Linked DNA regions of Homo sapiens. The protein of the gene in region 2 purifies or fractionates together with the protein of the main gene of each other region. This does not show direct contact. Each region holds a gene or a part of one and is shown on either strand. Other genes may lie near its edges. The genes, in order: PCNT, FAM81B and CDK5RAP2.

The links.
Region 1: the proteins of FAM81B (region 2) and PCNT purify together in Homo sapiens (affinity purification with mass spectrometry; 2 studies listed by BioGRID and IntAct, with this or other methods). This does not show direct contact.
Region 3: the proteins of FAM81B (region 2) and CDK5RAP2 purify together in Homo sapiens (affinity purification with mass spectrometry; 2 studies listed by BioGRID and IntAct, with this or other methods). This does not show direct contact.

The regions. Positions count from the first base shown.
Region 1 is NC_000021.9:46,324,523-46,336,030, reverse strand, and holds part of PCNT (pericentrin), read right to left. Parts: intron 11,365-11,508; exon of another isoform or gene 10,821-11,364; intron 9,744-10,820; coding exon of another isoform or gene 9,655-9,743; coding exon 9,442-9,654; intron 1,635-9,441; coding exon 1,263-1,634; intron 1-1,262. Other genes in the region: uncharacterized LOC128092249, read right to left, coding at 9,540-9,743. UniProt on the Homo sapiens protein: Integral component of the filamentous matrix of the centrosome involved in the initial establishment of organized microtubule arrays in both mitosis and meiosis. Plays a role, together with DISC1, in the microtubule network formation.
Region 2 is NC_000005.10:95,392,031-95,403,538, reverse strand, and holds part of FAM81B (protein FAM81B), read right to left. Parts: intron 10,746-11,508; coding exon 10,642-10,745; intron 7,429-10,641; coding exon 7,364-7,428; intron 1-7,363.
Region 3 is NC_000009.12:120,568,839-120,577,350, reverse strand, and holds part of CDK5RAP2 (CDK5 regulatory subunit-associated protein 2), read left to right. Parts: intron 1-5,309; coding exon 5,310-5,377; intron 5,378-8,512. UniProt on the Homo sapiens protein: Potential regulator of CDK5 activity via its interaction with CDK5R1. Negative regulator of centriole disengagement (licensing) which maintains centriole engagement and cohesion. Involved in regulation of mitotic spindle orientation.

The DNA.
Region 1 (11,508 bases), on a different chromosome or scaffold from region 2:
CACTCCAGCCTGGGCAAGAGCAAAACTCCATCTCAAAAAACAAACAATTTGCCGGCCAAGTGCAGTGGCTTACGCCTGTAATCCCAACACTTCAGGAGGCTGAGACGAGCAGATCACTTGAGGTCAGCACCAGCCTGACCAACATGAGGAAACCCTGTCTCTACTAAAAATACAATAATTAGCCAGGCATGGTGGTGGGTGCTTATAATCACAGCTACTTGGGAGGCTGAGGCAGGAGAATCGCTTGAACCCAGGAGGCGGAGGTTACAGTAAGCCAAGATCGCACCACCAGCCTGGGCAATAGAGCAAGACTCCGTCTCTATTTAAAAAAAAAAAAAAAACCCCAAAAACCAAAAAACAACCAAACTTGCCTAAAGCAGTGTGAACTGAGTCTAGCTAGAATCAAATGGCTAAAATAGAGGCTTTTTTTTTTGTGAGATGGAATCTCGGTCTGTCTCCCAGGCTGAAGTGCAGTGGCACCCAGCTAATTTTGTATTTTTAGTAGAGAGGGGTTTCACCATATTGGCCAGGCTGGTCTAAAATTCCTGACCTCGTGATCCGCCCACCTCGGCCTCCCAAAGTGCTGGGATTACAGGCGTGAGCCACCGTGCCCAGCCTAAAATATATGCTTTTAACATAACACTTCAAAAGTAGTCAATTCCAAACTTAATGTTTTCCTCCACATGCTAACAAAAAACATGTCAATAAAATAAAGGTAATCAACTCAACACGTATGGAATTCATCCCACCAGGAACGTGGCAGAAACCAGGGACATGCAGACTGACCACAGCCTCCCTGCCCTGCCAGGCTCTCAACTGGCACAGGACTTCCAGTCACAAACTGATGATGTGAGAAACGAGGTACCAGGCCTAAGAAACAGGCTGAACAGACAGGTGAGTCAATCGACAAGGGCAACTAGAATAAAGGGAATTCATGACATTCCTCAAACTTATGAAGGGTGGCTTCTCTTCAATGTCCCATGGGAAAAACAAAAAAGGAAGATCACAAGGGAGGCAGATTTGAGCTCAGGGAGAAGGGTATGAAGAGAGGCTTCCCATTCACAGGCAACACTAAGAACGTGCAGGCGGCAGCACGTGGGGCCTACAGGGTGAGCCTCTGCCTCCAGCTCTCTATGCTTCCAGTTTCCACTTCTAAAGAGAGGCCCTGCAGAGATGGAAGGTCCTCTCACTGGTTTGGATTTCTACAACATAAAGAAATCTTTTGACAAAGAATACACCTTAACAGAGAACTTAAAGAATACCTTTGTGAACATCCCACGCTGTTCTGCTGGGTGGTCACTGATTGTGAAGATCCCACGCTGTTCTGGTGTGTGGTCACTGACTGTGAACATCCCACGCTGTTCCGGTTGGTGGTCACTGATTGTGAACATCCCACGCTGTTCTGGTGGGTGGTCACTGACTGTGAACATCCCATGCTGTTCTGGTGGGTGGTCACTGACTGTGAACATCCCACGCTGTTCTGGTGGGTGGTCACCGACTGTGAACATCCCATGCTGTTCTGGTGGGTGGTCACTGACTGTGAACATCCCACACTGCTCTGGAGGATGGTCATTGACTTGCTTCTGCTGCAGCTGTTCCAAGTCCTCTCTCTTCTCTCCATCACAGTCCTCCGGCTAAGAAGGGGAGGACCAGAAAGAAGCATTTAAAGCAAGGTCTAGGGCTGCAGCCTCAGGCCCTTCCCAGCTCCTCTATCTGCAGGCCTGTGCTGACTTCATTTAACAAGTAGAGCTCACTTCCACCTGTTCAGAACGTGCACCTTCCGCATTAACAATTCCCAAGCTCTAAACATTTTTTTTTTTTTTTTTGAGACGGAGTCTTGCTCTGTCGCCCAGGCTGGAGTGCAGTGGCACAATCTCAGCTCACTGCAATCTCCGCCTCCTGGGTTCACGCCATTCCCCTGCCTCAGCCTCCCTAGTAGCTGGGACTATGGGTGCCCGCCACCACGCCCAGCTAATTTTTGTATTTTTAGTAGAGACAGGGTTTCACCATGTTAGCCAAGATGGTCTTGATCTCCTGACCTCGTGATCCGCCCGCCTTGGCCTCCCAAAGTGCTGGGATTACAGGCATGAGCCACCACACCTGGCCAGCTCTAAACATTTTTATAATGCAAGTAATTTCCCTAATGATGTTCCTGCCCCTCTTCTTAATGAATTCTACTTTTTTTTTTTTTTTTGAGACGGAGTCTTGCTCTGTTGCCAGGCTGCAATGCAGTTGCACGAACTCGGCTCACTGAAACCTCCACCTCCTGGGTTCAAGTGATTCTCCTGTCTCAACCTCCCGGGGGTTTCACCATGTTGGCCAGACTGGTCTTGAACTCCTGACCTCAGGTGATCCACCCGCCTCGGCCTCCCCAAGTGCTGGGATTACAGGTGTGAGTAACCGTGCCCAGCCTGTAATTTTTTTTTTTTTTTGAGACAAAGTTTCACTCCGTCGCCCAGGCTGGTGGCATGACCTCGGCTCACTGCAACCTCCGCCTCCGGGTTCAAACAATTCTCCTGCCTCAGCCTCCCGAGTAGCTGGGACTACAGGCGCATGCCACCACGCCCGGCTAATTTTTTTTTTCTTTTTTGTCTTTTTTGAGACGAAGTCTCACTCTGTCACCCAGGCTGGAGTGCAGTGGCACAATCTCAGCTCACTGTAAGCTCTGCCTCCCGGGTTCACGCCATTCTCCTGCCTCAGCCTCCTGAGTAGCTGGGACTACAGGCGCGTGCCACCATGCCCAGCTAATTTTTGTATTTTTAGTAGAATCGGGGTTTCACCATGTTGACCAGGATGGTCTCAATCTCTTGACCTTGTGATCTGCCCAACTCGGCCTCCCAAAGTGCTGGGATTACAGGTGTGAGTCACTGCGCCCGGCCATGAATTCTACTTTAAAAAAGAAATTTAATTAATTTTTTGAGACAAGGTCTTGCTCTGTCACCCAGGCTGGCGTGCAGTGGTGCAATCCCAGCTCACTGCAACCTTAACCTCCTGGGCTCAAGTGATCCTCCTGCCTCAGCCACCTGAGTAGCTGGAACTACTGGCATGCGCCACTGTGCCCAGCTTATTTTTTATTTTTTTGTAGAGACAGGGTCTCTGTTCATTATGTTCCAAAGCTGGCCTCAAAATCCTGGGCTCAAGCAATCCTCCCACCTCAGCATCCCAAAATGCTGGCAATACAGGCATGAGCCACAGTGCCCAGATTAGCTTGCTTTAACAAGATGATTCACTAAGAACATTTCAATTTCTTCCCAAAATAGCAAAGAAACATGACAGTGTCGACTTTTCGGGATCATTAGATGAGTCACAAGATGAATGCAGAGAGAGAGCACCCATGGCCAATGATGATGGCAAAACTGACGTGAAAATAAAATCTCAGACAAGTCTTCATTTGACAATACCCTAGATCAATCTTCTCAGAATCAAGAGGAAGTGAGGGACGAAAAGGGGACACAGTAGTCTCAATCAGCTGCCCGCTCACATGAATGATCACACTTCAAAGGAACCTGGACCATCCACTTCCTTAAGAGGACACTTCTAATGTTTGTGTGTCAAAACTTACTTGATACAAAGAGGTTGGATCAAATTTCTTATAAAGTTGTTTTAAATTATTGCTTTATTCTTACTTCTGTAAATTACGTGTAAAACAACTTAAAATGACAAAACAGTAAAACGGCCCAGAAATCTAGATGATAAATGGTGATAACTATTTTTCCTGGTATTTGATACAAATATGAGTTGGAAAAGTGCTAGAACCACACTTCTTAAGCCTTCTATAGCACTAGTTAAATCTTCTTCAGCCAAAGTTTTTGTATTTTCTTCTGAAATTCTTGACCTCTGAGCAATTTTTGGATGGTTCTCTTTTTTTTGGAGATAAAGTCTCGCTCTTGTCCTCCAGGCTGGAGTGCAATGGCGCGATCTCGGCTCAGTGCAACCTCTGCCTCCCGGGTTCAAGTGATTCTCCTGCCTCAGCCTCCCGAGTACCTGGGATTACAGGCGCCTGCCATGAGACCCGGCTAATTTTTGTATTTTTAGTAGAGATGGGGTTTCACCACGTTGGCCAGGCTGGTCTCGAACTCCTGACCTCAGGTGATCTTCCTGCCTTGGCCTCCCAAAGTGCTGGGATTACAGGCATGAGCCAATGCGTCCCGCCAGATGGTTCTTTTACCAAAAAATGGCCTCTCCTCACTTTGTTCCTCATCTGTAACTGAAAGGTCAAATTCTGCTTTCTACCATTGCTTTATTTTTATGATTTTTTTTTTTTTGAGACAAGGCCTTGCTCTGCCGCCCAGGCTGGCGTGCAGTGGTGCCACCATAGCTCACTGTAGCCTCAAACTCCTGGGCGCAGGTGATCCTCCCAACTCAGCCTCCTGAGTAACTGGGACTACACGTGTGCACTGTCATGCCCAGCTAATTTTTATATTTTTCATAGAGACAGAGTTTCAACCATCCTCCCACGTTGGCCTCCCAAAGTGCTCGGAGCCACCATGCCTGACCTTGCTTTCTGCCATTTCTGAGTTAACTTTCAGAACTGAGACAGCTGTTGCATTGTTTCAACTATTTTTCCATCATGCACTTAACAAATTGTAAGGCAACAGAGCCGAATCCTGAATATTTACCACAAAGTCTTTCTGCAATTCTACCTTCGCTTATAACCATCCTGAAAAAAAACTAAGATCTTAAAGTTGGTTAAAAATATGTCTTATATCAGCTGGGCACAGCGGCTTATGCCTGTAATCCCAGCACTTTGGGAGGCCGAGGTGGGAGGATCACCTGAGTCAGGGAGGTCAAGGCTGAAGTAAGCTGATTGGGCCACTGCACTCCAGCCTGGGCGCCAGAGGGAGGACCTGTCTCCAAAAAAAAGAAAAAAGACTTATGCTAGAAATCATCAGTATTTACCTAACAGTTAGTGATCAAAGTAAGCAATTTATTATATGTTGGAAAGCACAATAACTTCTCCCTCCCCCTCACACACACATACACACACTCTCACACACACACAAACACACACACTTATCTTCTTATGCTGTTCAATAAGCTCACTAGACTCTCCATAGCCAAACCTCTCACAATTTATAGATGGGTAAAATAAAACAAATGCACCTTTCATTATGTTTAAAGCACTGGTACAACTATAACATAAAGGTTCCTTGAGGATTCCTGATCTCCGACGCAGCATGACCAACCATCTGAGAGGGGAGTGCCCTGGCCTGGGACATTATTCGGCCACACGGCCACCAGCTGCTAGCTTTAAACAGTGGACTCTTTCCTAGAATTTCACTTTTCAGAAGATCATTATTTTGAACACAAAATTACTCCTATTTTAACATCTACAACTGGATTAAAGGCATACTAAACTCAAATATCATGAAATATTTTATAATACATATGAAAAAAACTCCTTTTTAGACTGAACTGATGATGTACAATGATATAATCAGAAAAAAGTTAATGAAATATCTGCTTCTAAAGCACCAATGGTTTTTATATACATAATTGACAAAATGGCTTAAGAAATTTGATTCCTAACTTAGTGTACAGCAGAAAGACAATGGCTCTATTCTACACATACTACTTAGTTTACCTATACATGTATAAAGAAAATAAATTTTAGCCAGGTGGGATGGCTCACACCTATAATTCCAGCACTTTGGGAGGCCGAGGTGGGAGAATTACTTGAGCACAGGAGTTTGAGACCAGCCCTGACAACACAGTGTAACACTGTCTCTACAAATTTTTTTTTAAGTTAGCCAGGTATGGTGGCACATGCCTGTAGTCCCAGGTACTAGGGAGGCTGAGGCAGGAGGGTCACTTGAGGCCAGGAGGTCAAGGCTGGAATGAGCCATGATTGCGCCACTGCACTCCAGCCTGGTCAAGAAAACAAGACCCTATCTCAAAAAAAAGGGGGAAAAAGCTGATGTCCAAGATCCAATAGGGGTTAATACCTGATGACTGCATGTTTAGCTTATTAAAATGTCAGGAATTCTGTGGAAAAAGCTGACTGGTACCTGACCTTTGCCCACCATTTTAGAGCCAATGGACAGGAAGAGGAGGTATGTCTCTGCTGATGTCAAGCTGTAACTGTGCAGAGGAGTTCAGGATGACGATGTGAGATGAAAATCAGTCAGGCCCTGCCATGCCTTCATTCCATGAAGAATCCTGGCTGCAGGAGCACATACTTTTCCTAGAGAAAGTATCCTTACATTTTACCAGCTTTTGGTTTTTAAAATACTGCTTTAAACAGTTAAGTTACTACTCACAGCAACAGTTATAAGTAACAGAATGCTTTACCTTGGCCATCTTGCCATTGTTTCACCAAGTTTTGTGAAAGCAGACCTCTCCTCACATCTGCCACACCACCCCACGCTTGAGGGTGAAGTGTCCTGTCCACTGTGGTCACGAGGAGGTGACACAAAATGCAGCAAGTGCAGTGAGTGTGCGTGTGCATCTCTAAGTCAAGGGGACCAGTAATGGGCCTGTTATTTATAGATTGCTTTAAGATGTCCAAAATACATGTTTTATTAGTGGTATAGTTAATTCTAAAATGAAAAAAAATGTTATATAAGTAACCTAATGTGTTTATTGTAGGAAATACCAAAAACCATAACAACGAAAAAACCAACAACTCTATTCCTTTCTGACCACCACTGTTAATTTTCTGGTATATGCCCTTCTGGTTTTGAAAACAAAAATCAAAATGCTTTTCATCAGATCATCTTCCTGAATGAAGGCATGCATCAAATAGCAGAGTTAGAAACTAAGAGAGTCTCTACCTGATGAAACAGCAAAGTATGAGTGTTTAATCAGGAGTCTATACCATGCCTTCTAATGTTAACGACCCATCAGTCTCCAAATACAATTTACCACAAAATGTGCTAAGTTTGGAATGGTTTTCTGATAGGATCCTGAGATTCCCACATATATTTATCAGCTTACTACTTTTAAAACGTCTATGCAGGCCAGGCACAGTGGCTCACGCCTGTAATCCCCACACTTTGGGAGGCCGAGGCAGGTGGATCACGAGGTCAGGAGTTCGAGACCAGCCTGGCCAATGTGGTGAAACCCCATCTCAACCAAACAAATACAAAAATTAGCCGGCCATGGTGGTGCCCACTTGTAATCCCAGCTACTCGGGAGGCTGATGCAGGAGAAACGCTTGAAATCGGGAGGCAGAGGTTGCAGGAAGCAGAGGGCGTGCCGCTGCACTCCAGCCTGGATGACAGAGTGAGACTTCGCCTTAAAGAAAAAAAAAAAGTATGTGCAACCAGAGGGCCGGGTGCAGTGGCTCACGCCTGTAATCCCAGCACTTTGGGAGGCCAAGGTGGGTGGATTGCTTGAGGTCAGGAGTTGAAGACCAGCCTGACCAACATGGTGAAACCCTGTCTCTACTAAAAATACAAAAATTAGCTGGGTTTGGTGGCAGGCGCCTGCAATCCCAGCTACACGGGAGGCTGACGCAGGAAAATCGCTTGAACCCAGGAGGCAGAGGTTACAGTGAGCCAGGACTGCACCACTGCACTCCAGCCTGGGCAAAAGAGTGAGACTCCATTTCAAAAAAAACCAAAAAACATATGCAACCAGAATATATCAAAAGTAACTTTCTGCCCAGCAAGGTGGCAGAAATCCTGTAATCCTGGCACTTTGGGAGCCTGAGGCAGGAAGATCGCTTCAGCCTGGGAGGCAGAGGTTGCACTGAGCAGAGTTCGCGTCACTGCGCTCCAGCCTGGGCAACAGAGAGACTGTATCTTAAAAAGAAAACGGGAAAAAAAAAAAAAACACACCAACCCAACAACCAAAAACACTCAAGAGATAAAAAGCAAAATTCAGGATTTGTAGGTAGAATAACACAAATTTTAACTGTTGCCAACAACTCAATTTTTTAAGTAAAGCAGGATACATACATTATGACCTTGAGCCAGATTCTGCCTTTGGCCACCAGTTTTCCAGCAAATCCTAGCAAACATCAAAGCCTGCACCCATTCTGCTGCAGCAGCAGGGACACTCAACACCTAAGGCCCTCGTTCATAATTCATACAAAAGGCCCAAGGACAGCCCGCCTCCAGGCAGGTTTGTAGGCCCCCAAGGAGCCCGGAAGGCCAGCCCCTTCAGGACTCAGTGTGCACTCACCTGCCACACCTGCCCATGGGGGTGCCCCTGCAGCTCACAAGGCCTCAAGCAGCAGACCCAGTCTCCTCCAGCAACACACCATGTCTGCAACACCTTCACCCCTTCCCTCTTCATCTCACGTTTAGTAAAAAGGTAAAAGACAAATGTGACAAGCAGGTGCATTTACAACTATGTGAAGGAATATTATGTTTTAAATGTCCCAAGAAACACCCATCAAAGGGGCTGACACGACCACACACGAAGAACTCCCAGTCTTCCATTACAAAGCAAACAACTGACACTTGTCTTCAAGTAGTTAATCCAAAACTTCTCAAAATTACATAATAAAGATAAAACAGGGCCAGGCGCAGTGGCTCATGCCTATAATCCCAACACTTTAAGAGGCTGAGGAGGGAGGATCACTTGAGCCCAGGGGTTTGAGGCTGCAGTGACCTGTGATCACACCACTGCACTCCAGGCTGGGCAACACAGCAAAACACTGTCTGGAACAAACAAAAGAAAAAAAAAGAAAAAGAAAACCCAAATTTATTAAGAATAAAACCATAGGCCGGGCACGGTGGCTCATGCCTATAATCCCAGCACTTTGGGAGGCCGAGGCGGGCAGATCACGAGGTCAGGAGATTGAGACCATCCTGGCTAACACAGTGAAACCCCACCTCTATTAAAAATACAAAAACTAGCCGGGCGTGGTGGCGGGCGCCTGTAGTCCCAGCTACTTGGGAGGCTGAGGCAGGAGAATGGCATGAACCCGGGAGGCGGAGCTTGCAGTGAGCCGAGATCGCGCCACTGCACTCCAGCCTGGGAGACAGAGCGAGAATCCATCTCAAAAAAATAAAAAATAAAATAAAAAGAATAAAACCATAAAAATTTACTCACTGTTTTTTTTTTTTTGAGAGAGAGTCTCGCTCTGTCACCCAGTCTGGAGTGCATTGGCGTGATCTCGGCTCAATGCAACCTCTGCCTCACAAGTTGAAGCTATTCTCCTCCCTCAACCTCCCGAGTAGCTGGGATTACAGGTGTGCGCCAGATGTCCGGCTAATTTTTGTATTTTTAGTATAGACAGGGTTTCTCCATGTTGGCCAGGCTGGTCTGGAACTCCTGACCTCAGGTGATCCGCCTGCCTCGGCCTCCCAAAGTGCGGGGATTACAGGCGTAAGCCACTGCACCCGGCCCTCACTTTTTATAAACTAAAATAACACCCTCTTTCCTCACTTTTGAAAGGCAAAAACAGACCAAAGACCATCTTTAGTAAATCACACTAGAAATCACTAGAAGATAAGCGAAATGTTCAAATACAACATTGAGCAAATCTACCTGAGCTGCAAAGGCCCCTCCTGCCCCATCAGGGGTGTCGTCACATGATGTGCTTTTGCAAATGTCCCCTCCTCCACAGAGTGCGCTGTCCTCCTTGGTTACCGGACTCTCCTCCTGGACAGACGCATCGACAGCCGAGCCCTTCCTCTTCGCCGTCTTTTTCTCCGAATGCGAACTGTCACCTTTTGTTTTTCTCTGTCGGAAGTGAGCAAGCTGCGCAAAAATGTAGATAAGTAGTAAAGGCAAAGGTAAGTGAGAAAAAAATAACAGAACCACAAAGTCAACAGACTGGTGGGGACCATGAGGCCCGAGGGCTGACCCAGTCTACTCTGCCACACCTGGCCAACAGATGGCTCTCCACAAACACTGCCTTCATCAATATCTATATCCAAGGGGTCTAACAATGAGGACTGCTAATTATGCCTGGTAAAGAAAACCATACGGCTGATTGGCAGAATAGCTTTCCTAGCCCTTGGCAGTTTACAGAAAAATAAAACTTTAAAAAAAATTTGTATAAAAGATTGATAGCTTAATCAAGGCATATTTAAGTTTTAAAATGATATAAAAGCTAAATCTCTCCCTTCTTGCCCCAATTTTCCCCCAACTGAAGAAATATATAGCCCAGCCAAAACTTCCTAGCCATAGATTCTGAGACAAGATACAGAAATAGCAAAAAATTAATTAAGCCAGGTCAATCTCACATCTTCCTTTATGGAATCAGATGTTCTATTTTTCATGACACAGCTCACCAAAGCACCAGGGACATCCACAGAGCATCGCCCATCAGAAGGCACAGCCTAGCTCTGCTCAGTCCTCAAATCCGAGAGTTTGAGACTATGTGCGAGCCTCATCTCCCGCTAACGTCTTACTCAAGAGGTATGCGATCGATCCCACATCAGCCTTTCACGGGGAGACATCTGTTCCCTCAAAAGACAACTGTGGCCACAAAAACAAACGCATGGAACACACATTTGTGTAAATGATAACACAAGTACACAAGCTCATGGACCCAGAAAAATTACACAAGGCCATTTACACAAGAAAATGGTCTCTCAAGGAAATATTTCCTTCAAAGTCAACCTCATGTCGTTTATTTTCATGTCCTCCTCCACCACACCTATCCATGTCGGGATATAGCACAGACCTGGTCTGCGGCCTGCGTCGCCCTACAGGCGGCGTCTTGTCCCTCCCTCCCCCCTCCACCCTCCTGGGAGCTCTGCTCCTGTTCGCAGCTCCCTGCAGGCTCCGGGCTCCCCTTCCCCTCCTGCCCGCCTCAGCCCTTCCCCGGCCTAGCCCCGCGTCCCCTGTCCGCCGTGCCCGGGAGCCCCGCTCTTCCCCAGCACCCCAGCCAGAACATCCTGGGGGGGAGCGGCGCGCACCTCGCAGAGGCCGGCCTGCTCCCGCGGTTCCGCCTCGCGCTTTCGGGACTCCCTTTCTCCTGCCCCCGAGTCATGGGCTCTGCGCGCTTTATTCCCACGAAACCTAGGACAGTGGCCATCAAACCGAGCGCTTTTTCACGGAGAAACCCGGGGCGGGAGAAAGACGGGAGCGCGTCCCTTGAAGGCGCCCGGCGCCAGCGCCGCGTGGGTTCCCGGCAGCGTACGCCAGGCCCGGACGGGCAGGACGCGAGCCCAAGGGCGCGGGAAGAAGACGGCGGCCGGGAGCGCCGCGGGGGCCTTTCACACAGTAAGGACTGCAACGCCGCGAGAAACGCGCGGGGAAAGCATCTCCGACGGACGAGGCGAAGGCGCACCCTGGGGAGGCGCTGCAGGCCACCCGCGCCACGCCCCCGGCCCCGGCCGCGCAGGAAACTGGCCCTAGACCAAGCAGCCACCCGAATACCGGCCGCCCGCCCCAGGCCACCCGGTCCCGGAGGACGCGGGAGCCACTGGAAGATCCAGCCTGGGGTCCAGCGCCTGCCGCGCCCCACCCCCTCCGTGCAGCCACGCCACGCCCCTGTAGCCCCGCCCTGCAGCCACACCCCGCCCCGGCGTGCACCGCGCCCAGCCCGCGCCCCACCCCCCCCGACGCAGGCGCAGCCCCGCCCCGGCCCGCCCGAGAGGCGCC
Region 2 (11,508 bases):
ACATTTAAACCATTTTTGGTTAGTGCTTCTATTATGTGCAGCTGAAAGCATTGTGTCTGTATCTAGTCACTTACCAATAAAAATGTCATTTCAAATAAAGATACATTAAGTACTTACTAAATATTTACTCTAGTTCATATACAATATTTACTCTAGTCCATACACACATTTACTCTAGTCCATACCTGTAATACTACATATTTACATATAATGGCTCTGTTCCTCAAGGAACTTAAGTTAATTCAGTATTTCTTATACTTGAATTGGTATCACAGGGGAGGGTGAGGGAGGGAAGCTGTTAAAATACAGATTACTCCACTCCAACACAAACCTACTGAATCAAAATTTTAGGGTAGGCGGGGAGAGTAAGAATATGCATTTTAAGCAAGCGCATAGGTGATTCTAATGTATCCTAAAGACTAAACACCACTGATTTGTTCAAGACTGGTCATGTGAATCAGCGAATAATATAAGGCAGGATATATAATGAAGTGCTAAAGTAGTGAACTATGGAATATGAGCTCTCAAGTTCTGTAGACATCCAGAAGCAGCTTGGCAGGTTGGAAAGCAAGGTAGACTGAGGGTAGAACACAGGCTCCACCACTTACCAACCGAGTGTTCTAATTGCTTCATCTGTAAACAGGGCCAACAAGGCCTATTTTGCTGTGTGGTTGTAAGTTCTGAGACAATAAGTGAGATGCATGCAGTAGAGAGGGTGGTGAAACCAATGCCACACACCTGTATGTCTGAGGTTAAGAGGGTCCCAGGGCCTCACTCTTGCGGGTGAGGTGCTATTGGCTAATGTCAAGATTATATCCAGAGAGAGCAATGCGAGGGCAGACCCAAGCCAGCAGGTCTGTGGTCTTGTCTGTCAGGGCTGATTTCAATGCTGTGGCTATTTGGCCCATCGAAGGAAGACTTTTAGGAGGGTATCACCTACTGCTATGCAAAGCTATTTGCCTGCAACCATGGAGACATTAAGTGGGATGCAAATGCTGGACTGTAGTTATTTCTTCTCCTAAATTTTTAAAGATTATTTTTAAAATTTATTTTATGTTTAAGTGGAGAGCTTTCCTTTTTGAAATTCCTTTTCAGGCCTGGGATTTACTATTAACTGTAGTCTTATTATTATTGCTAATTCTTAAGGTTTAATGAAGCACCAAATGATGGCTCTGTTTGGTTTTATTTACATGGTTCCTGAAGATCAACAGACAGCTTATATTTTTTCCCTATTTGCATTGCCACAAGGACAGAGAATATTGTTTTCCAATTGACCTTTCTAAATCAACCATGGAAGAACAAACACATGAGCATGTCTCAATTTTCTAAGAGAGATTCCTGACGAGGCCATTATTCAAATCATTAGGTATTCCTAAGGGATAAAAACTGAGGGCTTTCCCTAGTAGTAAGATGTAAATTTAAGAACCTCACTGCTTTCTTAGTATGTTATGTATGTCAGTGGGACCTAGATCTAAATTTAACTATGAAAGGAAAGAAATAACTGGATATTCCAGACTAGTGCAGATGGAGTCACCAACCACAGGAGGAAAAATTCCTAGGGGGCCTTTTCAGAGAGATATTTGGGCTTCACATAGATCATTGATTATGTAGCTGACAACTGAATCTGAACAGATTTTCCACAAACTCTGAGTTCTATTTTTCTGTAATTCGGTGTGACTTACACCAGCTGTGCTGTAGCTGGCAGATCAGCCGGTACATGGAGCCTCTCACTTCCCTGCCTGTTCTGTTCTTGTGAATAGAGCCCTAAATTTACTGGGGAGATTCTGGTAACCATTTTGGCAACCTGTAATACTCAGAGAATCAAACTTGAAAATTTAAACCTTTTTCTAGAACACAAAAAGGCATACCGAAGAAAGATTTCTACATTTTTATGAGATCTAATATATGACTAGTTACGGTCTGAGTGCAGAGAGTCCTACAAAAAAAAAACCTGAAGTGAAATCTCAGAGAATATTTTGATGCCTCACAAAAATAATCTATGAGTGTGTGTGGGGAGTGATGAAATAGAAAAAACATTTTCTATAGTTTCTGTGTTGCTTGTTTATAACCACCCTGGCAAGTGGATGTTTGTAGCTGGAGAGACTTCCACTGCTGAGTTTTAGGTAGGGCTGAATGCTCTGGGGGGTGAGGCAGGCAATTTGAGTTCTGGTGGGCCCAGTGCAGAAGGAAGTACACCAGGCCAACAGGGCTGGGCCAGCACAGAGCATCAGGAAGGGCCCAAAAAGAACTCCATATAGTGGCACGGTCCAGAAGAGACTGGAGAAAGAACTGGTTGTGATTCTTTTCCAGTGAAAAGTGATGCGCTCTATAAGGCAGACTCCTCATGTTCAGCAAAATTTTTAGTAAGATTGCAAAATGAGTGATGTGCCTGGTACGATTGGTTTTCCTTCATGTGGAGGCATCAAGGTTGACAAAGGTTCCAAACAGAGTCCCTGTATCAGTGAGGGCAGGGTGGATGTCTGGGTCATACTTACAGGTGAAGCATATGCAAACTGCAGTAGCAAATTGTTTTGATGATGTTGGGAGTTCCTGTAGCATTTGTGGCCCTCTTGAGATACCTTCCCATATTACTTTGGTCTTTGGGGGTGGGGGTGGGGAGTGTTTAATGTGAGTCTCCAGGGGAAAGAACGCTGTACTTGGAGTCAGAAGACTTGGGTTCAAGTTCTATCTCTGTCACAAGCTAACTTCAACCTCTCTGAGGTTGCCCGGAAGAGGGCTCCCTCTCTGTTCTGTGGAGAGAGGGACTCCTGACCCTCCCACCTGGCTGACGAGATCAAGTTAAAGGATGTGTACCTGAAATACTCTGCAATGTCTTGTAAATATGTCTTGTACAATGTTGTATATATGTGTTCTTACAATAATTTATAATTATTAAATATTGTTATGGGTTGAATTGTGTCCCCCCAAAAGAAACAGTGAAGTCTTAAAGCTTAATACCTCAGTATGTGACCTTATTTGGAAATTGGGTCTTGCAGATATAATTAGTTAAGGTGAGGTCCTACTGGAGTAGAGTGGGCCCCTAATCCAGCATGGCTGGTGTCGATGTGAAGATGCCTGTATGTATGTATGTGTGTGTGTGTGTGTATGTATGTATGTATGTATGTATGTATGTATGTGAAGGTGGCTGTAGGAAGACAGAAACACAGGGAGATACCATGTAAAGATGGAGGCAGAGATTGGACTGACACATCTACAAGCCAAGGAGTGCCAGGGACTCCCAAAAGTCACCAAAAGCTAGGCAGGAGACAAGGAACAGGTTCCCCTTGGAGCCCTCAGAAGGAACCAGTCCTGCTGGCACTTTGATTTCAGACCTCCAACCTCCAGAATTGTGAGGTAATACATTTCTATTGTTTAAAGCCACGCAGTTTGTGGTAGGGAGCTCCTAGCCCAGGAGAAATGTAAGGAATTTATTATAACACTATCTTATTTCTATTTAGTGCTTATAGTCAATGTATCATTTTCATTGCATTCCCACCACTACCCTGTGGCATGAGTAAAATTTGTCTCTACTTAGGAGGAAACTGAGGCATGGAGGCTATGAGTCACTCAGCAGCGAAACATTTTAGTTAGCCTCTCCTCTTTCTCCTACATCACAGCAGCTTTGCTTAGGCCAGTTAGTGGCTCTTCCTGTTACATTTGCACTTTTCTCAGAGGAGAAAGGTGTGTCTTTCCCTCTGCTTCTTCATATGTAACTTGCTGCCAACATCATGTAATTTTTCACCAAGTCACCTTTCCTGCCTGGCTCCCATCTCTCCTCGGAGTCCTAAGGGTCTTCTCAGAGGCCCAGAGGTTGGTGGGGGCTCCCTCTGTGCTCTAGAGAACTGAGATCAGCATCAGCCTGACCTCAGTGGAGTTCTCACGCTTGAGCAGAAGGTCTTAAATGTGACAAGAATCCAGACAGCCTCTTAGGAGGGACTGATCATCATTTGGGCAGCCCCTTCCCTTACTAATTGGGGGTCCCTATGGGTAATGCCCAATCCCTGTGACTGTGCCCACTCTCAGCAGAGCCTTGCCCATCACAGGTGGGTGGGGGGGGGCATGAAAAGAAGAAAGAGAAAGACCAAAAGACTGCACTGTGGCTGATAGTAGCACCATCCAACCTAACATGATCTATCCATAGAAAGTTCAACCAACAGAGTTTTGTCTTCCTTTCTCATGCATTGTAATGTGAAATATCTCTCTTCACCATGTAGTAACAAAAGCAATGCATCACGGAATAATAAAGTGTCTGCCATGGTGCTAAGAAAAACCTTGAAAATGAATACTTTCAGACCCTGAATTCCATATTCTACTCATGAGGGGAAGTCATTAATCATTTATTATTTTGCCCATTTGACTTGCTGAAAGTTTTATGTATCCAGATTTTAAATATCATTCTTTGGCTGTCAGCCAGACCCTCATCTTCACAAAATGTACTCTTGAGAGAATTCCTGAGTTATATATTGGCTATAGCCCAGCCTGGAAAACTCAGTAAAAATCCTCAGTTCCTTGGCCTCCTTTTTGTTCAGGAAAGTTGGAATTTGCCTCATGGGCAGCAGAAACTCAGGATTCATTTTCTCCAGAGACTTTCAAATAGAATCCCAGATGCTATCATAGTTCCAATTTGTATTTCCCTCCTTTTCACCCTAGCCATCCTTGCCCCCTTTCTGTTCCTGCTACACCGTAAGAATATTCCTGCCTTCGAAACTTTGCTCTTCCCCTAGATGTCCATATGGACAAATTCCTCACTTCCTGGTCTTTTCTCAAATGTCAGATTCTTAATGAGGCCTACCCCGGCCAGCTATCTAATAATTCATTTCTCTCCTTCCTGCTAGAATGGCTCCAAACGCATTATTAGATAGCTCCCTGAGGGACTGGATTTTTACTTTTTGAGTTGTTATTCTTTGCTCATAGTATTACCTGTAAATATACCCATATAGGTTTTAAGGCCAAACCTCTGAAAACCTGTAATATAAACTCAGGCCATTTAATGAGTTGATAATGACTTTTACTTAAGTACTCTGTTTGCATGTCAATCCATTTGTTGTCACCCAATGAAAACTATGAGTTGAAGGCTGAAGTTTTTTATTTATTTATTTATTTATTTATTTATTTATTTAGAGATTGAGTTTCACTCTGTGACCCAGGCAGGAGTGCAGTGGTACACTCTCCATTCACTGCAACCTCCACCTCCCGGGTTCAAGTGATTCTCCTGCCTCAGCCTCTCGAGTAGCTGGGATTACAGGTGCACGCCACCATGCCCGGCTAATTTTTGTATATTTAGTAGAGATGGGGTTTCACCATGTTGGCTAGGCTGGTCTTCAACTCCTGACATCAGGTGATCTGCCCACCTCTGCCTCCCAAAGTGCTGGGATTATAGATGTGAGCCACTGTGCCTGGCCAGTGAAGTTATTTTAAAAACCATTGTTCTTTATTTTTATTTTATTGGATTGAATATGTCAATTCAAAATGTCTGCACTTATTACTGAAATGCCCAAATGCCATTTTGCTTTTCCAGTTAATCAGCTGATTTAAGCAAAGCTATAACAATTCAATTGTTCTACCATTACTTTCCATTAAATCTGTCAACTACAGTTCATCAAGTGTATTCAGTACATCATGATAGGCTACTGGAGGGATATCAAAAATCATAAGGCCATAGAGTGCCTTCCTTTAGGGAGTTTGCAGCCTGTTCTGAGAGATGCGAAGAGAGAGACCAAAAGACAATTAACAATGTGAAATCATAAATAGAAAGTTCCAGATATATGGTTTAGATAGTAAGAGAAGGGGTAAGGGAGAGATTAAGGTAGAAATAAATGTTGGAGTGAAGTAATCTTTATCATGCTTTTGCTTTGCATTATAGACTATTTCTTCCTCTTTGTCTTCATTTTAATTTATCTGAAAGCCAAAGAAATCCAAAAAGTTTATCTTCTGCTGCTTAAGTTTGTTACCATTTTCCAGGAATTTATTTTCTCATCTCCTGGGATGTACATCACCAGCTTGAGCTAAAGAAATCCACACAGGTTTGTAATAGAATTTGACGGATCAGAAGAATGATTTTTATTTTCCATTTGTCATGTAGAGAGTCAGGTGGGGACAAGTTTCCCTTTTCTCCTTGGAAGATAAGGTTAGCTAATACATTTATTTATAATAATTATTTTTGTGCATACTACATTCATTGTCCTTAACTCAGAAGAAAAGTCATCTGTCCAAATATTGCATTTTTTAAACATTTAAAAATATTTTTCCCATGCTTAGTTTTATTTTTTTCTAAATCATAGACTCATAGTCATATAAACAAATACAAGTTATGTGGAACATGAAAAAAGGGGCTAACGCTAACATACTGTGATTGAACTATTTGGAATGTATTAAATTTAACTGGCCAAGGGACAGGGGAATTCTTGTGAAAAAAATGCAGTAAAAATTAGTGAAGAAATCTTATCATCTTAATTGTTAAAGATAATTTTTAAAAAATCGAAGTTCAAGGTGTATTTAGATTTTTCTCTTCACATGAACTCATTTCATTCATTTGGCTATTTTTTTCTTCTGTGGTCATGATTATTAAAATCAGAATTATTTTAAAGCTGCAGTAGTTTCTAGTCCAACCTCTTTGTTTTTCAAATGAAAAAACTAAAGCCCAGAGACATTATGGAACTGACTGGTGTTACACAGCAAAGTAGTAGAAGGACTGACACTAAATCCCCAGTGCCCTGAAAACATGAATGACAGCATTAGACCAAATCCTGCTTTGACATATGGAATAGAAAACAACTCAAATTAATATGCATTGCCTTTGCAATGCCACCTTCATCACTGGCATCCTTGGGTATTTTGGACAATGTGCATGTGTTAACAGTGTGTTACTCTATTTCCAAGTGCCTGGAGTTGTCCCTCTGTGGTACACCTTTCCTGGGGGAGCTCCAGGTATGGCACTGTAAATAGCAGAAACAACATCTTCTAGTGATTAGTGAAATATATCTCAAAATTTCCTGAGTTTTTATCATGAAATGTTAACAGCTTTACTTGGTTTATTTTGAAGTCAATAGTTAGCTATATCTGATATTGTTGCAATATGCAATATGTTGTATTGCTTTTCACATAAATCTACAGGAACCTATGGAGGTCATTTAAAGAAAAGGTAGTTAAATCTGCTTGTTCTGTCAATCAGAAAGGAACAGGATCAGGTTTGTCTTTCTGACATGATTTAATCTCTTCTGAATGCAGAGAACTTAAAGGTTTCATTCAGGTACATTCATCTCTGACTGAATAATTAAACACAGGATTTTTTCTTTTTTGCGTGTGAGATTTGTCACAATAAATGCAGTTAATAGTTAAAACTAGTTGTAATTTACACACTTACTTGTCAACATATTCAACTAGATCTGTAGAATTCTTGGTTGACATTTTGGCTGGAGATAATCTTACCTAAAACAAAGGTTACAGATTCAGAATATATCATCTGCTTCTTTACAGATTACTTCTATGCAGTTTATCTTTAAAGAGTTTTAATTTTAAACAAAATGTATACCATAGACCAGATAATCAGCTCAGTTAATCTTACACATGTCCCCTTTGTATTGCTAATGACTAAAAACAAAATTAAGTTCTGTGGAGATACTAGAGAGCTGTATTTCATAGATTTGGTATCACAGTCAAGAAAACCTTTTTGGAAAAGTCAAAGCCATAGATTATTCTTAGATAATTTTAAAATGAAATATCTAATGATTATTGACTGAGTTACTAAAGAAGTCTTCACAGAGTGGATGATTCCTGACATGCTGATTTCTAAGGAGAAACAGCTAATTTTCAAACACAAAGCCCCGAACTAGAAAACTAGCCTATCCAAGTACCTGGATGTCAGATTATTATAGCCAGAGCAGTCATACACATGATTTACCAACATTAAGTATAGCTGGCCATATGTACACTTAACTGGCAACTTCTAATTCAATAAAATGGTACTACTAGAAAGTTCTATTTTCATGAAAGTTGATAATTTGCAGCATTTTTATGACAGGAAAGAAGATACCCAATGTACTCACTGTTTTTCATATCTCAAAAATGCCTTAAATTCTTTTTTTTTTTTTTTTTTTGAGACGGGGTCTCGCTCTGTCGCCCAGGCTGGAGTGCAGTGGCGCAATCTCCACTCACTGCAAGCTCCGCCTCCCGGGTTCACACCAGTCTCCTGCCTCAGCCTCCTGCGTAGCTGGGACGACAGGCGCCCGCCACCACGCCTGGCTAAATTTTTTTTTGTATTTTTAGTAGAGATGGGGTTTTACCATGTTAGCCAGGATGGTCTCGATCTCCTGACCTTGTGATCCGCCTGCCTCAGCCTCCCGAAGTGCTGGGATTACAGGCGTGAGCCACAGCGCCCAGCCGAAAATGCCTTAAATTCTAATGTTCTTTTAAGTTTAAAAAAACAAGACAGATTTATCCTAATTTTAATAGCCTATTGGTGAACTGGATTCAATATGGAGAATATGAGTGGTATTCCACCTCAGTTAAAAACTTTAACAAAATATATTCCTAGGATATTTTTTCTTGCTTTATGTTACTGTGTACTATAATGGTGGGCAGAATATGTTAAGACTCACATACAGAAAGCATTCCTTTTTCAAATGCCCAAGGAATTACTACTTCTTAAGTTTTAAGAAACTTAATTGGATACCTCACTCCTTCAAAAAACCTTAAAAAAATGTGAAGTCCATTTTCAGGGATGCTGTAAAGAACGCCTGACAAAGTCTCTCCTGACCCAGCCCTGTTGGTGGTGGGCAGGCAGAAAAGGCTCGAGGCTGCTCACGAGGGAGCCTGTGAACCCCCAGGAGAGAGCTTGTACCCTCCCCGCATTGCTGAATGGGGTCTGCAATGGGTCTAATGCTGTTAAGCCACGTCTTCCCCTCGAGAATGGATCTACTGATTCACTGGGCACTCAGGTGGCCACGTTATGGAAACTTTCCTAAGTCAGAGGACCTGATGCCTTCTGCCGTGGAGAGTGTTTTCACTCCTGTTTCCCACTGAAACAGTACTGAGTCCTGAGACCTCACCTACTTCATTGCCAGTTCTTTCCTCCTCACCTTTCCACTGCTCCCTCTGGTCTGTGTGGGGATCTATTTTTGGCATTTCCTCAGCAACCGGTTGGTCCCTCCTTATATGTTTGGAGAGTAGTCCTCTCCAAGTATTTGTGGAATTAAAGTGTATGATGAATACAGTGTCCAAGGGCACTAACTTGTCCTCCTTTCTCCTTCTGAAGTGTAACAATTAGATCTATGTTTTATTTTTATTTTATTAATTTTTAAGTCTTACTTGAAAGACCACAAGTAGCATCTTCTTAAAAACACACCTACAACACACACTATTTAAGTGACAAATGTTAAGCATAACAATGGAGGAATATTTGGAAAAGTATAGAAAAGTTAAAGATACAGAATAAAAATTCTCGCTTGTAATTTTGCTACCTAGAACAAAAGCCACTGATGTTGGCTTTTGGTGCAATTTTTTAAATGTAATTTTTAGGTATCTAAGACAGTATTTAAATTTTTATATCTTTGCTAATTGAACATAAGAGTCAGTTCTGTTTTATCCTCATTCCTATAAGCTAGGATGTTATTATATATAAAAACTGTCTCACAAACAACTTGATGGCCACTATGGGAATTTTTTTACATATATCAGTTTTATCCATTTCATAATAATGCTTTGAATGTTATAGCTTTTTGGTTTTATGGGCTATGAAATACGTTCTTGTATATGACATAATTTTATTTGACATGAATGCCCTATAAAGTGGATATCATTACCTTCCCATTAGTGTAAGGATGACATTAGTTACCTTAAGAAGCTGAAACCCTTATTATGGAAAGAAATTAAGATGACTATTTTTTATAGGTGAGGAGCTTCAGGATCAGAGAAGTACGGGACTTGCCCAAGATCATGTAGATGATGATGATAATCATACTGTAGCCCTTCCTACTTGCTAAGCACTTACTTAAGTGACTCATTCAAACCCACAATAACTTTGTATGATAAGCCTAATTCACCCATTTTACAGAAGAAGAAACAGAGGTTAAGTAATCATTCCAAAGTCCCACAGCTAGTATGTGGTACAGCCTATTATATAATACATACCAAAAATCAATGTTTGATATTGTGCTAGTGCTTTATGTAACAAGTGACTGCATCTGCCTCTTGTTATGTAAATTACAAGGTGTTAAGAGAAGTGCAAAAAAAGTCTAAAAACACTGCTTTAAAAAATGTTCTTTTTAACGGAGAAGATACGACAAGTTCTAATAAAGGAAACATTCTATTTAGCTATACCGGTTTTCATGTTAGAGATAAAGATAAAGTCTGCACCTTGAGTTTATCATGGTTCCTTTTGAATCATCATAAAACATACATAATGATCAACTTAAAAGAATTTTAGCCCCATATATTAAAAATCAGTCTAATTAATGAAATTGTAAATTGAGGTCATTTTTCTTTTCAGCTTGTGTTTTCAGCAGCCATTTTGCCAAGACAGAACAAACAGGAAATGTGGGAGAACTATTCTTCCAGAACTTCTTAAACTCTCTAAGCACTCTAAACTTTAAAGAAGCTGAGCAAAGTATTCTACTTTTAATGTGAATATTGAAAAGTACTTGCTTTCTTTTCTTGGTTATTGTCTGAGCCAGGAAGGGGGCCATCAGGTTCAACTGGCTGTTCCTCTGCAGTCGCAGTTGGAGAGGCACTTTTGTTTACATTTGTATCTAGGTAACCAGAATGCTGAATCAGGTCAGGAACTATGACAAGTGAATTTTTGCAGTGCTGCTAATTTTTTTTTAATTGAGGGCAGTTTCTGTACATATAGCTTGGCTTAAAGGGAGGCTTTCAATTTGCTTTACATTTCCCCTCTCCTCACTTATCCCAATTCTCCCCCATCCCCCCATAACATCTATAGTTAGCTAGAAGAGCATTTCTTTACAGATACTTCTATAAGACCTTTAGAAACTTTTTTAGGATCAGACAGCTCTAAAATAATCAGGAATGTATTTTTTTTAAATTATACTTTAAGTCCTGGGATACACGTGCAGAACATGCAGGTTTGTTACGTAGGTATACACGTGCCATGGTGGTTTGCTGCACCCATCAGCCCATCATCTACATTAGGTATTTCTCCTAATACTATTCCTCCTCTAGCCCCCAACCCCCAACAGGCCCCAGTGTGTGATGTTCCCCTCCCTGTGTCCATGTGTTCTCATTGTTCAACTCCCACTTGTGAGTGAGAACATGTGGTGTTTGGTTTTCCGTTCCTGTGTTAGTTTGCTGAGAATGATGGTTTCCAGCTTCATCCATGTCCCTGCAAAGGGACATGAACTCATCCTTTTTTATGGCTGCATAGTATTCCATGGTGTATATGTGCGGCATTTTCTTTATCCAGTCTATCATTGATGGGCATTTGGGTTGGTTCCAAGTCTTTGCTATTGTGAACAGTGCTGCAATAAACATACGTGTGCATGTGTCTTTATAGTA
Region 3 (8,512 bases), on a different chromosome or scaffold from region 2:
CTCGCTTTGTTGCCCAGGCTGGAGTGCAGTGGAGTGATCTTGGCTCACTGCAACCTCCGCCTCCAGAGTTCAAGCAATTCTCATGGTTCAGCCACTTAGTGGCCGGGACTACAGGCATGCCCCACTACGCCTGGCTAATTTTTGTATTTTTGGTAGAGACGGGGTTTCACCAGGTTGACCAGGCTGGTCTTGAACTCCTGGCCTCAAGTGTTGTGCCTGCCTCGGCCTCCCAGAGTGCTGGGATTATAGGTATGTGCCATTGCGCCCAGCCTGTCTCTATGATTTTGACTACTCTAAGTGTCGCGTATAAGTAGAATCATACACTATTTGTCCTTCTGTGACTGGTTTATTTAACTTAGCATTATGTCCTCAAGGTTCATGCGTGTTGTAGTATGTGTCAGAATTTCTTTCCTTTTTAAGGCTTTTGTTTTTAATTTTTTTTAGAGACAGTCTTGCTCTGTTACCCATGCTGGTCTTAAATTCCTGGGCTCAAGTGATCCTCCTGCTTCTGCCTTGCTAAGAGCTGGGATTACAGACACAAGCCACTGTGCCTGCCCTTCACTGATATTTTTATTGTCCTTTTGATTATAGCCATCCTTTGGGTGTGACATGGTAGGTATCTCATTGTGGTCTTTTTTTTTTTGTCGTTGAGACAGAGTCTCACTCCCTTGCCCAGGCTGGAGTGCAGTGGCGCAATTTCGGCTCACCGCAACCTCTGCCTCGTGGGTTCAAGCGGTTCTGGTGCCTCAGCCTCCCAAGTAGCTGGGACTACAGGCACGTGCCACCATGCTCGGCTAATTTTTATATTTTTAGTAGAGACGGGGTTTCACCATGTTGGCCAGGCTGGTGTCGAACTCTTGACCTCAGGTGATCTGCCCGCCTTGGCCTCCCAAAGTGCTGGGTTACAGGAGTGAGCCACCCCGCCTGGCCCTCATTGTGGTATTGATTACATGTTAATGGCTACTGATGTGTTGAGCATCTTTCCATGTGCCTTTTAGCCATTTGTTCACTTTCTTTGGAGAAATGTGTATTCAAATCCATCGTCCATTTAAAAAACGTGAATATATTTTGACCCAGCAATTCCACTTCTTGTCATCTATTCTAGAGAAATCCTCATACTTGTGCATATGGGACCTTATAAGGACATTCATATGACATTGCATGTAAAAGAAAAACTTGGAAACAAATTGAATTATCATCAGTAGGGGATTGGGTAAATACACATCCTTTCAAAAGTATCTTTCAGACTGTGGCCCGTTGGTAGCTCATGAAATTCAATTTAGTAGGTTGCAACCAGGATTTAGAAAAATAGAACAGAATAGAAAACATTTCAAGGATGAAGGGTAATAATATTTCTTCTGTGGCTCATGGTCAGTAAGGTTTGAAGAACACTGCTGTAGAAAGCTTTGTAGGAGTTGAAAACTTTGAGGCATATCTATTTGTACTGTCATGAAAACATCATGAGGGCATATTAAGTAGAAGAAGGATGTTGTAGCATGATGTATACTGTTTGATTGCATGTGTTTTTAAGCAGCAAAATTGAAACTATCTATGTAAAAACACATAAAAAGTTCTGGAAGTTATAGGTCTTTTTGAAAACAGTGATTACCTCCTAGGCGGGTTCTAGATGGGAGCGAGGAGGAGCCAAGGAGAACTTTAGGCTTATCTGTATTTTTTTAAATTTATGTATTTTTCTCTAATTAAGAATAAAATAGAATGAAAAAGGGGTTGTTAAAAGACAAAAGTGAGTTTGTTTGTGTAATCGTTGTCAGAATGTGATATCTGGTCTCATCCATGACTCTCATGAAACAATTTGTCAAGGAGACATAAGACCCCTTGGGTCTTATGGTTTGAGTGGACAATTGTTGCTGGCATATGTAGGCATAGAAAGAGGTCAGTCCTTTTCGGTAGCAATAGAGCAAGATAGGAGGATGAGGTGGTGGAGCTCAGGTGAAGGTCCATTCAGTCACTCAAAAATTATCCACAAACAGTTGCTACAGCTGGGCGCGGTGGCTCACGCCTGTAATCCTAGCACTTTGGGAGGCTGAGGCGGTCAGGTCACCTGAGCTCAGGAGTTCAAGACCAGCCTGGCCAACGTGGTGAATCTCCATCTCTACTAAAAGTACAAAAAATTAGCCGGGCGTGGTGGTGCATGCCTGTAATCCTAGCTACTTGGGAGGCTGAGGCACGAGAATCGCTTGAATATGGAAGGTGGAGGTTGCAATGAGCTGAGATCACGCCACTGCACTCCAGCCTGGGCGATAGAGTGAGAGTCTCCAAAAAACCAAAACAAAACAAAACAGTCGTTATGATGGCTGTGCCCTGTGCTGAGTGATGGAAATTTTATGCCTCAGTCCATTCGGCCCTTAACCACCACCACACCCCTGCCACCCCCAACCTCCGGGAAGGCGTCAGGGGTACCAGGGTGGTGTAGGTTCACAGCAGGGGGTTTAAAGTCAGGCTGGCTTGGAGTTTCCAGCCTATTAACTTTTTGGTCTTTGTTTCCTCATTAAAAAAAAAAAAAAAAAAGGCAACATTAAAAAGTACCACCAGCCGCAGAAAGACTATAGTGAGGATTAAACCTGATTTTAGTTTCAAACATTCAGTTTAGAAAATGGACTTTAATCCTGTGGTGAGGATGAAAGGGAAGGCTGCCTGTCCTGTGCTGAGTGTGGTGCTTGTGCAGCATGGGTGCCCCATACAAGGGCAGGTTTCTTAGATTGTGCTTTATTTTGCACGTGAGGAAACTGGTACTCCACCATGTGTCACATTTATATAGGAGCTTTGGGCAGTCCACACACAGGCTAGCAAGTGGAAAAGACACTGGGATCCTGGATTTTGGGCTTGGCTTTGCCACTAACTTTTGTGATTTTGAGTAAATAAGTTCCTAACCCATTTCTGGGTTTCAGTCTTCTCATCTGTGGAATAAGATCATATCTGAGCCCTTTTGTTTTGCTTACATTGTCATTTCTCGTGAGTATCCCTGAGGCCCCAGCCTTAATTATAAGGCTACAAGTGAATGATTAGAATGGAAAGAGGGAGCTGCTTGTGGCTGGAGGTGTAGTTGGAACTGACTGGAGGGTGCAGATGACAGATTCATAGCATTTTAAAAGTGGGTAGGTAAAGCCCGAGTGGAAATTTGGCAGGATCCAAGCAAAAATTTCTGCATTACATAGTGGTTTTGTCTAAGAGTTGGGATGTCAGATGTCATTTTTCAAACTTCAGTGTTTGCCTGTAGGAAGCTTGTCTAAGACCAGAATCTTTGGCTTTGTTTGCTAGGTACTTTTCAGCTGTGATTGATCTTGGCTTGAGTTATTCATGGGCAGTTTTAGCCAGTGGGAGTTAATGTAATGGCTCTGGTACCCGGAGAGAACCCCAGATTGAGAATGCAGGACCAGACCTTAGGCTGAGCTTGGCCAATAACCTGGTGTATGTGACCTTGGGCTTCTGGACCACCATCTGCAAAAGGTGATGGTTGAACTTGATTTTAGTTTTTAAAATTCAGTTTAGAAAATTGACTTTGTCCTTTTAGTGATGTTTATTGGAGGAAATTGAGAATTATATAACATTAAAAAGGAAGAAAACCTCTCATTTCCCTACTAATGATGATTTTTAATATTTCAGTATATTTCCTTTGTCTTGTTATATATCTGTAGCCCACCTATTTCCAAAATGGACTTGAGGTGACTTCAGTATTTATGTACTGTATATATTTGTTTTCATAATTGAGGACATATTCTGTTTACGTTTTTTCATTTACCTTTACAGGGGACACTTTTTTTTTTAAATTTTTTTTTTTTTTGAGATGGAGTCTCACTCTATCACCCAGGCTTGAGTGCAGTGGCATGATCTCAGCTCACTTCAACCTCTGCCTCCTGGGTTCAAGTGATTCTCCTGCCTCAGCCTCTCAAGTAGCTAGGACTACAGGCACCTGCCACAATGCCCGGCTAATTTTTGTATTTTTATTAGAGATGGGGTTTTACCATGTTGGCCAGGCTGGTCTCGAACTCCTGATCTCAAGTGATGCACCAGCCTTGGCCTCCCAAAATACTGGGATTATAGGCATGAGTCACTGCACCCAGCCCGGACACATTTTTTTGTGATCATTTTCTTAATGTTGGAATTTTATGATATTTCCAATTTTTTGCCTGTTTTTGATCTTGAAGGTACATTCCAACTCCAAAGTTTGGTGGTCAGGCAAAATTATCCTAGGAGCACAATGAATTTGGATTTAGAGGCATGGAAAGAGCAAATTGCCAAGAAGTCAAGCTGTTTCCATCAACTCCTACTTTACAGTGTGGGATAGGGAAGTATTCGTGGGAGTTGGACATAAAAGACCTGGCTTCTGGACCTGGCTCTCCACAGAACCGCCATGTGACCCTGGCTAGGACAGTAAAATTGTCTGGGCCTTGGGGCCTTCCTTTGAAAAATGTGTGCACCCTCAGGGAATTAGGCAATTCTAATGATGGTAAATCTTTTATAAATTGTAAAGCACTGTAGGTTTCAAGGCGACATGATATTTTGCTCCCATTTGTGGAGTACCCACAAGGTACCTTGCAATATCTTGTTTAATTGCCAGTTACTCTGTGAGGTAGCTGCTGTACTCATTTTACAGCTAAAGAAAGTGAGGCTCAGAGAGATACATGGCAGAGCTTAGAATAGATCAGGGTAGTGTCTTTTGTGTCACACCACACCTCCTATTATGGGTTAGTTTTCTGTCAGTGTCTCCAGATCCTCACTGAATTTATTTATGTAATTCAACCAAGACAACTTCTTGGATCAGTGAATTTTGCATTGTTTGACATTCTTAAAACATCTAAATTGGTGTCTGATTCCCAGAGGTGGTGATAGGCATATTAGTAGTCATAATGATAATAGTAACAACAACAATAGTTGCCGTTTACTGAATACTTACTATGTGCTTTGTGTTTATATACATGAACGAATTTAATTTTTACAGGGAGGGCATGGTATCCTCATGTACCAGATTAAGAGGGTGAGACTCAGAAACATAAGTATCTTGTACTTGTCACAGTGCCTCTGCCACTAGCACATATTTGGCACACAGAACATTTGATGTATGACTGAATGAATGATGTTACTGAAGGTCACTCAGCTATCAAGTGTTGGAGCTGGAACTCAGCCCCAAAGCCTGAGTTCTTAACCTCTGTGCTTCATGCCACATAGGTAGCCCAGCTGTGTGCATCCCTCCTGGCCATGGGATGATTGTCATGTGCAGTCCAGACCGTCTTAACAGTCTCTGTTGTTCAAACATTAGCTCATCTCTTATCTCATGTGTTCTCTCCTAGTGGCCTTGTTCCCAGTGTACCAGATGACCTGGATGGCATCAACCCCAATGCTGGGTTGGGAAATGGTCGTAAGTACACAAAACCAGGCATTCTCTTGAGTAAAGAACAAGGAAAGTAGACATTGGACTGTGAGCATCTTGAGCTTTCATATCTCTGGGGCCCAGAGGCTTCCCTGAACTGGCACACCGTAGGTGCTCAGTATTTTTTGTATGTATTGATTTGCTTTCCACCTCCTTTCATAAACACTGGACTAGAGGAATTGTTGTCCTTTTGGCCATACTTCATGAGTTTCATTTGTTGCTACTAAAGCTATAGGGATTCAGTGAGCGTTTGCTGAACTGAACAACTGCACGGAGGCTGGACATTGAATTGGCAGCTAGGCCAGTGGCTGGAGGCCCAGGAGAGCTGCCATCTGGACTGTAGCGTGCCAAGGCCTTCCTGGCAGGCTGCTGGATCCTGTTTGCCGGCTGAGGCCCCGCATTCCTACACGGGCCTGCCCTTTGGAGACAAATAGCTGGTTAGACCACAGGAGACGGCTCTGAGTAAATAAGTAGCGTACTGTGTTTAAGCTGGATTATGAGGAGACTTTGCAGTTTGGGTCTAGCTAAGCATTCTTCATAATTTTTATTTCTGAAAAAAGTGAATGCTTAAGCGTCTCTGTGGGTAGTGCTAGTTTTTGCAAAATATCTCTAAGATATTTTGACTTGTTCTTTTTTTTCTCTTCTCCACAGTGCTGAGATATGTGCAAGAGGAGGGAGATTTTGGAGCAGACAGGAAAAGAGTCCCACGGTTTATTTCTGGAAAATCCCTTAACTTACAGGGCACCTTCATGTTTTCCTGAGGAACCTATTAACTTTTACTTTATTTTTACTTTTTATTTTTTTGAGACATGGTCTTGTCCTGTCACCCAGGCTGGGAGTGCAGAGGTGCGATCACGCACACTGCAGCCTTGACCTCTTGGACTCAAGCAATTCTCCATCTCAGTCTCCCTAGTATCTGGGACTACAGGCGTGTGCCACGACACCTGGCTAATTTTTGTATTTTTTGCAGGACGGTTTTGCCATGTTGCCCAGTCTGGTCTCGAATTCCTGGACTCAAGTGATCCACCTGCCTCAGCTTCCCGAAGTGCTGGGATTACAGGCATGAGCCACTGCACTCATTGGCAACTTTTACTTTAAATGCAAAATCCAACAAGTCTGATTTGAGATGGAGTCTCGCTCTGTTGCCCAGGCTGGAGTGCAGTGGTGTGATCTCGGCTCACTGCAACCTCCGCCTCGTGGGTTCAAGCAATTCTTCTGCCTCAGCCTCCCGAGTAGCTGGGATTACAGGCACGTGCCACCACACCCAGCTAATTTTTGTATTTTTAGTAGAGACAGAGTTCACCATGTTGGCCAGGCTGGTCTCGAACTTCTGACCTCAGGTGATCCACCCGCCGCAGCCTCCCAAAGTGCTGGGTTTACAGGCATGAGCCACTGTGCCTGGCCAGCCTATTTCTTAATTTAGCCGATAGTATACATTTGCTTCATGCCAGACTCTGGGCTCAGTGCTAAAATTCAACCTCAAATGTGGTTACTGTTAAGCTGAGAAGACAGACAAACCCTTATGAGAATTTGTATGGTCAGTGTCAGGAGCAAAGATGTATCAAGTGCTGTGAGAGGGGATTAAAGGGAGATTTCCTCTGGTGTGGAGGTGGGTCAGGCTAGAGTTTCCCAAGAAATTGATATTGGAGCGGAGACCTGAATAAGTCAGATGTAGGTAAGGAAAAAGGAGGGGATGAGCATCCCAGACACAGGTGAGGGCATGGCCCGTTTGAGGAACAGGAAAACAAACTAGCGTGCCCTTCACAGTCTGCCCTGCCCACTCCTTAGCCTCTTTTCTGCTAAGTGGTTTCCGAACACCATGCCCACTCCCACCTCTGTGCTTTTGCCTGGGCTGTCTCTCCTTCCTTTTGTTTCTCATCTGCCCGGTGCCTCCTTGCTCCCTCTTTAAGACTCAGCTCAAAGCTCACCACCCTTTTTGGCTCTCCCCAGGCTGACTAAGGTGTACTTTCCTCTCTCAACATTGTGTATTTCACTTCATCTCATCTCATTTCATTTATTCCTGTTGGCTACTTTTAAAGTATCGGAATCAGACTAGTTCTCACCCACCTATACTCCTTCCATCCTACTCCAACCCACCATGATCTGCGGCCTAGATTATCCCAATATTCTCCTAACTGGTTTCCCTGTTTCTCTCCTAAGCCCCTTACAGTCTGTTCTCAGAAAGGCAGCCAGAGGGAGCCTGTAGAAACCTAAGTCGAATCATCTTACTCCTTAGCTGCAAACCTTCCAGCAGCTCCTCAGAGTCCTTAGAAGAGCCTAAAAACCGTATACAGTCTGTCCCTGTTTACCTCTCTCACCTCCAGTCCTGCTATCCCCCTTTGTTTATTGAGCTCCAGCCTATTGGCCTCTTGACTGTTCCCCAGACCCACAGGGGACCGTGCTTCCACCTCAGGCTTCTCCCTGAATGTGGAGAATTCTCCCCCAGGTAACTGGTCCTTTCTCTTCAAGTCTGCCCAGATGTCACCTTCTCATTGAGACCTTCCTTAACCACCTTACCTAAAATGGCAGTCCTCACCCCATGCCTCCTATTTCCTATCCTTATCTACTTTATTTTTCTCCATAGCATTTATCACCTTTTAACATATTATGCAGTTGTCCTTTTGTTTTGTTTATTGTGTTTCCTCCCTCTAGACTATCGGCTGCATTTGTTTGTTTCCTGATGTTTCCACATCTAGAAAGGGGCCTAGCAGAAAGTGGATTCTCAGTGCATATATTTTGAAAGAATGAACTTATTCACTCAGCACACATTTACTGAACACCTACAAAGTGCCACGGGCTTTATTCAGCCTGATAACAGTTAGTTTAGATCTCCATCCTGCTCACTCGATAGGGAACCTCTTGGATGCAGGATTAGTGTCTCCTTCACCATTGTTTCCTCAGCATGCAGGATGGGGCTTGGCACCGAGTAGGTGTGTAATACATGTTTGTTCAGTTAAAGATGCTGCGGAGAGATTTGGGTATTGCCATAGTCTTTAAAACAGGTCAGCAGTTTCCGGTCCACTGCTTGCTTTTGAAAATAAACTTTTATTGGAACACAACCACTTTGTTTATGGATTGTTTGTGGCTGTTTTTGTGTGACAACAGAGGATTTGAGTAGTTGTG